Linked DNA regions of Homo sapiens: region 1 is linked to region 2. Evidence: fine-mapped expression QTL. A gene starts in region 2. The other region holds a variant in brackets. All regions are shown on one strand. Distances are between the middles of the regions.

Evidence for each region. PIP is the estimated chance that this variant, and not a neighbour inherited with it, causes the effect.
Region 1: its variant is the best candidate, but not a certain one, in a credible set for the expression of ASRGL1 in whole blood (TOPMed, PIP 0.72).

The regions. Positions count from the first base shown.
Region 1 is chr11:62,404,656-62,410,030 of GRCh38, forward strand. No RefSeq gene overlaps it. Among named protein-coding and RNA genes, the nearest start is that of SCGB1A1, 12 kb to the right of the region's middle. The variant T/C (reference allele first, on the strand shown) is at 2,267.
Region 2 is chr11:62,335,206-62,340,580 of GRCh38, forward strand. It overlaps ASRGL1 (asparaginase and isoaspartyl peptidase 1), which reads left to right and starts at 2,243. Exons shown (of 7, transcript NM_001083926.2): 1 at 2,243-2,369; 2 at 2,685-2,962. The coding sequence starts at 2,773. RefSeq lists an enhancer at 2,154-2,823.

The DNA of each region.
Region 1 (5,375 bases), 69 kb after region 2:
TGCATTTAGCACAGGGCCTGGCAGAATGGAGGTGTTGGTTATCGCTGCTGTTGTCACGGTGGGACGCTGAGTATTTAGTATGTACCACACACTGCTCTGAGCACTGGACACGTCCTTCCCACTGATGCTCCCAGAACACCTGGAAATGCGGCTGTAGGGTGAAAGGCTCAGAGCCCATCATCCATTCAATAAATATTTAATAAGCACCTACCAGGTAGCTGGGCCCTGGAGAATCGAAGGTGAGCATGCAGCTTACATTCTAGAGGGAGAGGTAGATAATTACACAAGGAAACACAGAAGCAAAATCATTTCAGACGGTGACAAAGGTGATGAAGGGAAGAAAGCCAGACCCTGGGATCCCAGGGGGTGGGGGAGGGTGCCCCACGGTAATCAGAGAAGACTTACCTATGATGAGAACAAGGTGCAATCAGGAAATAAACTGGAGGAGGCAGGGCAGGCAGAGGGGAAACGAGTGAAGGCCGGAGGTGCTCTGAGGGTGTCCCTTACCCTGGAGGTAAGGAGGCCAGTGTGGCCACAGGGTGCTAGAGGGATATGGCGGTAGTGACACAAAATGAGGCTGGAGAGACAGGTGGGAACAGGTCACATGAGGTCTGGAGTTTTATTCTAAGTGTTATGGGGAGCCAGGAAGAGTTTACACAGAGAAGGGACATGACCTGATTTACATTTTTAAAAGATCACTGGCTGGGCACGGTGGCTCACGCCTATAATCCCAGCACTTTGGGAGGCCAAGGCGGGCGGATCATGAGGTCAGGAGATCGAGACCATCCTGGCTAACAAGGTGAAACCCCGTCTCTGCTAAAAATACAAAAAATTAGCCGAGTGTGGTGGCGGGCGCCTGTAGTCCCAGCTACTCAGGAGGCTGAGGCAGGAGAATGGCATGAACCTGGGAGGCGGAGCTTGCAGTGAGCCGAGATGGTGTCACTGCACTCCAGCCTGGGTGACAGAGCGAGACTCCGTCTCAAAAAAAAAAAAAAACAAACAAACAAACAAAAAAAGATCACCGTGGTTGCTACGGGAGAACGGACTTCATGGGGCCACTGTGGATGGCAACCTTGACCTTGGACATGAATCCCCTGCTGAGCCAGAGGTAGCCCCCTCACCCAGGCCCGGGCCCCTCCCAGTACCCTGGGGAACAGGTTGCTTACACTTGCCCCTTGCCTGACCAGGGCATCTCCATTTCCAGCCCTTGGGGCTGGGGGATGCATGTTTTCCAGTTATCATATTTTCTGGCATTATGAATCCACCCAGGAAAGACCCACAAGTGATTTTAGAGGAAAGCAAATAGCAGCCAGTAGTGCTTGTTTTTCAGCTTTTATAAGCCCCACAGCTGCATCAAGTTCAGAGCATAAATGCATTGAACTGTGTTTGCTGGTAAGATGTTGCGTGCATTTACAGCTGAGCAATAAACGGCAGGGACAGAGCTATGCTCTGCAGCTCAGAACAGCAGGAAGACTCCTAGAGTGAGGACCCTAGGACCTGATACCATTTCTGGCTCTGCCCCTAACTCTCTATGCGACTTCCCATCAATTACAGCTCCTCTCTAGGCCTGAGATCTCTTCTCCAGAGCAGAGGGTGGAGTAGCTCTTCCCTACTTTCTCCCAGGCCAGTGACTAGAGGATAGAATTCCCAGGAGTTCAGATTTGGGGCAAGCCAGAGGCAGCTGCCGAGACCATCCAAGCTGTTCCTCTTGCACTGGCAAATTTTGGAAACATTAACCCATAGTATCTTTCCTCTTATTTTCCTTTCTTTTTCTTTTTTTTTTTTTTCTTTCTTCTGAGATGGAGTCGACTCGCTCTTGTTGCCCAGGTTGGAGTGCAGTGACACAGTCTCAGCTCACTGCAACCTCCACCTCCCGGGTTCAGGTGATTCTCCTGCCTCAGCCTCCCAAGTAGCTAGGATTACAGGCGCCCGCCACCATGCCCGGCTAATTTTTTGTGTATTTTTGGTAGAGATGGGATTTCATTATGTTGGTCAGGCTGGTCTTGAACTCCTGACCTCAGGTGATCCTCCCGCCTAGCCCTCCCAATGTGCTGTGGTTACAGGCATGAGCCACCAGGCCTGGCCTTATTTTCCTTTCTTCTCTTAGAACTTCCCCTGATTCTGGAAGCCAAGGCAGCCCCAGGGAAAGGCTGCTTTCCCCAGGGAAAGGATAGAGGAAGAGGGAGTCTTTTCCTGGCTGTACAGTTCAAAAGCCCAGTCCTTTGGAGGAATGGAAAGACCTGCAGGTGCTGGTTTTGTGTAAGAG[T/C]CAGGCTTCCAGAACCCCCACCCCACCCCCAGACAAGAAAAGGATTCCCAGGGTGGCCAGGAGGTAAAGAGCAAGAGTTACTAAGTGTTGGTCCCTGCTGAGACCAGTGACCTTCTGTAAAAGGCTTTAAAAACAATGATAAGGCTGGGAGCAGTGGCTCACACCTGTAATCCCAGCACTTTGGGAGGCTGAAGCGGGAGGATTGCTTGACCCCAGGAGTTTGAGACCAGCCTGGGCAACATGGTAAAACGCTGTCTCTACCAAAAAAAAAAAAAAAAAGCCAGGCATGGTGGCACATGCCCGTAGTCCCGGCAACTAGGGAGGCTGAGGTGGGAGGATTGCTTGAGCCCTGGAGGTTGAGGCTGCAGTGAACCATGATCACGCCACTGCACTCCAGCCTAGGCGACGAGCAAGACCCTGTCTCAAAATAATAATAATAATATATGCAAGCTAGAAATTAACATGTTTATTACTTATTTTTAAGTAGACATTATATTTGACATGGAAATTATTTCTCAGAACTCCCAGTTATACGGGTGATCCCCAACAGGTTCATTTGTCTTTTAAAAATACAGATTTATTTGTTTATATTGACAAGTAATAATTCTATATATTTATAGGGTACAATGCCATCATTTTGCCTACTCATTTTTTTGCCCAGCTAACTCAATTCATGAGTAAATTCATGAAGGTCTAAAATCCTTGGAGGCGGCTTCAGAGTTGGTTCTCATCTCAACTCCTCCTGGGTGCTACCCATGCCTGTGTGTAAACAGATTCAACATAAGCAGCAAAAGCACAGTGACTGCAAAGACCAAGAAGTAGAACTTGAGTTGCTTCAATTGTGTCCCTTTTTATTTTTTTTTCTTTTTTGAGACGGAGTCTCCCTCTGTCACCCAGGCTGGAGTTTAGTGGCATGATCTCAGCTCACTGCAACATTTGCCTCCCAGGTTCAAGCAATTCTCCTGCCTCAGCCTCCCAAAAAGCTGGGACTACAGGTGTGCACCACCACACCCAGCTAATTTTTGTAATTTTAGTAGAGACGGGATTTCGCTATGTTGGTCAGGCTGGTCTCGAACTCCTGACCTCAAGTGACCCACCCGCCTTAGCCTCCCAGAGTGCTGGGATTACAGGCGTGCGCCACCGCACCTGGACTCCAATTCTGTTCTTCTATGAGACCACTTAGAGTTTCTATGTGGGCTTAACATTCAAAATAATGGGCCGGGCGTGGTGGCTCATGCCTATAATCCCAGCACTTTGGGAGGCCAAGACGGGCGGATGACGAGGTCAGGAGATCGAGACCATCCTGGCTAACACGGTGAAACCCCGTCTCTACTAAAAATACAAAAAAATTAGCCAGGCGTGGTGGTGGGCACCCGGGAGGCAGAGCCTGCAGTGAGCTGAGATCGCGCCGCTGCACTCCAGCCTGCGGGACAGAGCGAGACTCCGTCTCAAAAAAAAAAAAAAAACACATTCAAAATAATGATAGAGTGTATGATATAATATTTGTTAAGAGAACATTTTAGTTCATACAGGAAATATTTTACTGTATTTTAATATCTTTACAGTTGAAATATTCCTTCCCAATGGTATTTGTTTTAGAACTAAAGAACAACTCAAAAAAGTAAAACATCACATCAATGGTACCATTTAGTAGTTGCCTAAATTTTACCTTTTATAGATTTTATAGACATTTTGGTTTCAAAAAAATTTACTTATTGGGTACTCGAGAATTTTTGTTTGTTTGTTTTTGTTTTTGTGTTTGAGACAGAGTCTCCCTGTTGTTGCCCAGGCTGGAGTGCAATGGCATGATCTCAGCTCACCACAACCTCCACCTCCTGGGTTCAAGCGATTCTCCTGCCTCAGCCTCCCAAGTAGCTGGGACTACAGACATGCGCCACCATGTCCGGCTAATTTTGTATTTTTAGTAGAGACAGGGTTTCTCCATGTTGGTCAGGCTGGTCTTGAACTCCTGACATCAGGTGATCCACCCGCCTCGGCTTCCCAAATTGCTGGGATTACAGGAGTGAGTCACCACACCTGGCGTTACTCAATAATTTACATAAAATATTACTATATCAGATGATAACCAAAATATCAAAATCTGGTTAGGTAAATATAAAAACTATTGGATAAATCAGCCAGGCACAGTGCTCATGACTGTAATCCCAGCACCTTGGGAGGCCAAAGCAGGAGGATTGCTGGAGTTCAGGAGTTCAAAACCAACCTGGGCAACATAGTGGGACCCCCATCTCCACAAAAAAAAAATTTTTTTTTCGAGACAGAGTCTCGCTCTGTCGCCCAGGCTGGAGTGCAGTGGCGCGATCTCAGCTCACTGCAAGCTCCGCCTCCCGGGTTCACGCCATTCTCCTGCCTCAGCCTCCTGAGTAGCTGGGATCACAGGCACCCGCCACCACACCCGGCTAAGTTTTGTATTTTTAGTAGAGATAGGGTTTCACTATGTTGGTCAGGCTGAAAAATTTTTTTTAAATAGCAGGGCATGGTGGCACTTGCCTGTGGTCCCAGCTACTCAGGAGGATCATTAAAAAATGATCCTCCCCAGGTGTCCAATTCTCCAGGTAAGCTACCAGAGAGACCAAGCCTTAGTGAGGTGGCAGAGCTCCTGAGTGGGTTTGAAGAGTCTGAGAACAGAGAGAAGAGCCCTCCAAGAACAGGCTGGGTATGGCAGCTCACGCCTGTAATCCCAACAATTTGGGAGGCTGAGGCAGGTGGATCACTTGAGGTCAGGAGTTCGAGACCAGCCTGGCCAACATGGTGAAACCCCATCTCTACTAAAAATACAAAAATTAGCCAGGCATGGTGGCGTGTGCCTGTAATCCCAGCTACTCGGGAGACTGAGGCAGGAGAATCGCTTGAACCCGGGAGGCGGAGGTTGCAGTGAGCCAATTTGGCACCACTGCAGTCCAGCCTAGGTGACAGAGTGAGTCTCTGTCTGAAGAAGGAGAAGGAGAAGAAGAAGAAGAAATGGGTGTGTGTGCTACACGGAGGCAGGTAGGCCACAGCAGTCTTCCCAGGCCCCAGCACAGCGTGGGAGCAGTAAGACTCCTGTGCACCCAGGAGTGGCTCCAAGGTGGCAGAGAAAGCCAGCGAG
Region 2 (5,375 bases):
GGTGTTCCCAGTTGTCTCTCCAATAGCCTGTCACCCTTCCTTCTTGCCAAGAGACCTTGATTTTATCCAGGGCCATGATGTACCCTGCTAAAATAAAAACTCAGACTCTCTTGCCACTAGGGGCAGCCCCCCAATCCAGTTCTGGCCAATAAAAGTCCACTTGGAGGACTTCTAGGAAAGCTAGAGAGCTTTCCTGAATTAAAGGAACAAAGGGGAGCTGGCAAAAGCCTTCTTCCCTTTGCCCTTCCCCATTCCTTCTGCCCCAATAGTGATCAAGGTGCCTAGGAGCACCATAAATGTGAAAGCCACATGCTGAAGGGAAGAGAAGGAGATGGGACATCTGTGTCACCTTGGAGCTGCTGCACCAGCCTGGGCAGCAACCACTAGATGTCTTGTTGTTGTTGTTGTTGTTGTTGTTGTTATTGTTGTTTTCAAATCAACAGTTATCTGGTTAAACCACTGTGGTCACGTTTCGTCAGGGACAGTTGAATACAATCCTTAATCCATAAAATGATTGTTGATGGAACATCGTCTACAGAGGAGTTAGCCAGATTCCTTCTCCTATCCCACAGAGCCGGACAAAAAGATGCTTCCTCTTTCCTCCTCAAAGACCAGAAGTTTATTTTCTAGAGAATTTATCTAAGAGACTTTGGATTGGGATGGGGAATACGAAGCCCATCAGAGAAGTAGATAAACGCATGAGGCTGAGATGGGAGGATCAAATGGAAACCAACATTCTACCTGCTTGGGCCACCAGCCACCTTCCCCAGCCTCAGCCAGATCACTGAATTCCAGATCAATCAGGAAAAACAGTAGAGATGGGGTTTGAGTTAGGGCTAGGCATAGGGTAGGGTTCAGGTTCCTATAAATAGCTGAAACCAAATGATGGTGAGCTGTATTATGATGACACAACTAGGCTCACGACCAGTTGAGACGTGCTAAAATAACCCTCTTCCAAGAGGTGAGTGTGGGAGACAGAATAACGGCCCTCAAAGGTGTCACATCCGAATCTCCACCTGTGAACACTCCTCACATGGCAAAAGGGACTTTGCAGATGAGAATAGAAATTGTAAGAAAGGGAGATTATCCTGGGTTATCTGGGTGGGCCCAATGTCATCCCAAGGGACTTCCTTTAAGAAGGAGGCAGGAGAGTCAGAGTCAGAAAAGAAAATCGTGATGATGGTGACAGAGAGAGAAGTGACGTAGCAGCAGAAACAGGCCAGAGGGAGAGAGAGTTAAAGATGCTAGGCTGTTGGCTTTGGCAATGGAGGATGAGGCCATGAGCCAAGGATACAGGCAGCTTGTAGAAGCAAGAAAAGACAGATTCTCTTCTGGAGCTTCCCGAAGGAACTCAACCCTGCAGACCCAGTTTGAATTTCTGACCACCAGAACTGTAAGATAATGTGTGTTGTTTGAAGCCAATAAATTTGTGGTAATCTCTAACAATAGGTCACTAGAAAGGGAATGACTGATCCTTAGTGGGGTGCCAGGGAGAAGGCTTTGCAGGAGGGGTTCATTTAAACTGGGCCTTAAGGCAGGAAACGAAGGTAAAACAGGAGTAAAGGGAATTCCCAAGAGTGGTAAAATATGTTATCAGTTGTGGGTAAACAAGAAGGGAAAGGACTCTCCTATCCACAGGAGATCAATCACAGTTTGCCTGGATCTGTCCCTGTTTATGCCCATTGTCCCAGTATAATTTTTTTTTCTTTTGATTCGGAGTTTCACTCTTGTTGCCCAGGCTGGAGTGCAATGGCGCGATTTCCACTCACCGCAACCTCCGCCTCCCAGGTTCAAACGATTCTCGTGCCTTAGCCTCCAGAGTAGCTGGGATTACAGGCATGCGCCACCACGCCCAGCTAATTTTGTGTTTTTAGTAGGGACAGGGTTTCTCCGTGTTGGTCAGGCTGGTCTCGAACTCCCGACCTCAGGTGATCCGTCCGCCTCGGCCTCTCAAAGTGCTGGGATTACAAGGCATGAGCCACTGCGCACAGCCTAGCGTTGCTTTTCAATCTGCAATTACAAAATCGTGGCATGCCACTTCACGCTTCTCGCCACCAACCCAACCACCCAGCCCCTAGCCTGGTCAGGAGCAGGAGGTTCCCCGCGTGCCACCAGGAAGCTCGGGCCGGCCAAGAGCGTAGACTCTTGAGAGGAGTGAGACAGGTGCGCGCCAGCCGGCCTTCGGGGCTTTATGGGAACTGGGCCGTGCGGCGGTCCCGCCCTCGTGCGCAGGCGCAGAACCGTTGTGACCAGAGCGGTTGCGGGCTGAGCGGTTTCGAGCCGGCGTCGGGGAGCGGCGGTACCGGGCGGCTGCGGGGCTGGCTCGACCCAGCTTGAGGTCTCGGCGTCCGCGTCCTGCGGTGCCCTGGGTAAGTCGGCGGCCCTCCCGGAGCAGCCGCCCGAGACGCGGGAGGGCGAATGAAATAAACGAAAATAGACATTTTCCCGAAGGCGAAATAGACATCCTCCTTCGGCGCCGGGGCTTGGAGGCGGGCGGCGGTGGGCGCGGGTTAACGTCCCCGGGGAAACTGAGACCCCCAGCAGGTCCGGGCCGGGGGCGGAGAGGAACGCGGGAGGGCGCCGGGCCCCTGGGCTTTTCGTACCAAGCTCGACCGAGCCGCCCCTACCCACCCCCAGCTGCGAACCCAGCCGTTCAGAACAGAGACTGGGCATTGTCCCCACAGGGTCTCCCGAGGACCTTGTACCCGCGCGGCTTCCTTGGGCTGGCTTTGGACGACGCTTTCGCCTTCCTGCTGCCTAGGATCCGCCGACATGAATCCCATCGTAGTGGTCCACGGCGGCGGAGCCGGTCCCATCTCCAAGGATCGGAAGGAGCGAGTGCACCAGGGCATGGTCAGAGCCGCCACCGTGGGCTACGGCATCCTCCGGGAGGGCGGGAGCGCCGTGGATGCCGTAGAGGGAGCTGTCGTCGCCCTGGAAGACGATCCCGAGTTCAACGCAGGTAAATGTGCCTTTCAGCTAGTAAATAATGTGAGTCAGGTCAAGCTCCTTCTTCAGAATAAATAGAACCTACATAGTGTTAGGGAATCTAATGAGCTTTGGGGTGAAACTAAGTATGTAAAAAAGAAACAATATTTAATTTTTCTACCTGTGCTGAAAAGAGTCAAACGCTAAAATATTTGTAGAGATTTATACTGAGGCAAATATGAGTGACCAATGGCCTCTGATACAGCTCTTGGGAAATCCTGAGAATGTGTGCTTCTGGAGAGACATAAGATGTCAATCAGTACATACAAGACATACATTGGTTCCATCTGGAGAGGTGAGACTACTGGGGGAGGGGGAGTGGTTTCCAGGTCATAGTTAAGATTCAAAGATTTTCTGATGAACAATTGATTTAAAGTTTTGTCCAAACACCTGGAATCCACAGAAGGGAATGTCTGGATTATATAAGGACTTGTGGCTGCAGATAGAATTAATAGAAGGCGGTTTAGCACGGTGGCTCACGCCTGTAATCCCAGCACTTTGGGAGGCCAAGGCGGGTGGATCACCTGAGGTCAGGAGTTCGAGACCAGCCTGGCTAACAGGTGAAAAGCCACCTCTACTAAAAATACAAAAGAAAAAAAAAAAAAGCCAGGCGTGGTGCTAGGAGCCTGTAACCCCAGCTACTCGGGAGGCCGAGGCAGGAGAATAGCTTGAACCTGAGAGGCAGAGGTTGCAGTGAGCCGAGATCACTCCAGCCTGGGCGACAGAGCGAGACTATCTCAAAAAAAAAAAAAAAAACTGAAAAAAGAAGGGAATGTCTGCATTAAGATAAGAGGTTGAGGAGACCAAGATTTCCCTTAGGCAGAGGAAGTCTCCAGGTAGCAGTCTATTGAGAGAATAAATTGTAAATGTTTCTTATCAGAGTTGATTCTCTCCTGAATCAGGAAAAAGGCCTAGAAAAGGAAGGGGATTCTCTTCAGAATGTAGATTTTCCCCACAAGAGATAGCTTTAGCTTTGCAGGACTATTTCAAGATATGGCGAAGAAACGTAATTTGGGGTAAAATACTTCACTTTCAGGGCTTGCTATCTGTCATGTGATGTCATACTAGAGTCCCGCTGGAATTTGGTATCTTATTGCTACAAAGTCTGCTTTGTCAGTCTTAAGATCTGTTTTAATGTTAGTGCTGGTCAGCTGGGCCTGAATTCCAAAAGGGAGGAGGGAATAATGAGGCATGTCCTACCTCCCCCGACAAGGTTCCAAAGTTTTCAGGTTAACTTTGGAGTGCAGAGTGTATTCCTTTGTGTTTCGCTTCTTTCACTCAGTCCACCCTTTTTTGGAATACTAATCATTATAGCTAATATGAGTATCTACCATGTATCAGGCAGTGGTCTAAGAAATTTGCTTGATTTATTGAATCTGAACATTAAATGAGTTGATCATGTAACTCTCTTAAGTTGGTTAACTTGTGTTAAACTAACTCAAGTTAACTCATAATGAACATTAAATGATTCACTTATGAGTTAATCACTTAAACTCAGTTGAGTTAAATGAGTTAGGTATAAGTTAGGCATAATTATTATCCTCATTTCTCAGATCAGACTAAGGCATAAACAGATTAACTTGGTGGAAGACATTCATCTCTTTGTTTTAAAATGGCAAACCTAAGATCTAGGCTAGAGATTGAAATACTTCCTGGAATTATACCACCCATCTGTCAGGGAAAAGAATTTCAGGAAATCTTAATTAATCATCAAATATTTACTCTTGTTCTGTCCCCTTTACGCAGCACTCTTTAACACTTGTGAAAAATTGTGTAATTCTTCCTGAGACCGGTGCAGTGGCTCACGCCTGTAATCCCAGCACTTTGGAAAGCTGAGGTGGGCGGATCACTTGAGCTCAGGAGTTCAATGCCAGGCTAGGCAACATGGCAAAACCCCATCTCTACAAAAAAAAAAAAATACAAAAATCAGCTGAGCGTGGTGGCACAAGCCTGTAGCCGCCGCTACTCAGGAAGCTGAGGTAGGAAGATTCCTTGAGCCCCAGGAGGTCAAGGCTGCAATGAGCCAAGACTGCGCCACTGCACTCCAGCCTGGGTGACAGAGTGAGACTCTGTCTCTGAAAATAAAATTAAGTTCATCTGAATTTAAAATGAGACCTAATAGTGTGCTTTCATGGCTCCATTTGTAGAGCCAGAATTTACCAGATAGGCACTGACTTTGCCAGCAGAGGGAGCAGCCAGCTCTTTCTGTGGGTGACTTGTTAAACCTTACGCTTCTTAGCACTCAGCACCCCCTGGGCTGTCAAACCCTCACTTATTTACACAGGACCTTCATTTGAAATGGGTCATTCTGGTTTCCGACCATCTCTTATTCTAACAATTTGTCATCTGCATGCATTGGGAAGCACAGATTAGGGAATTGGAGCAGC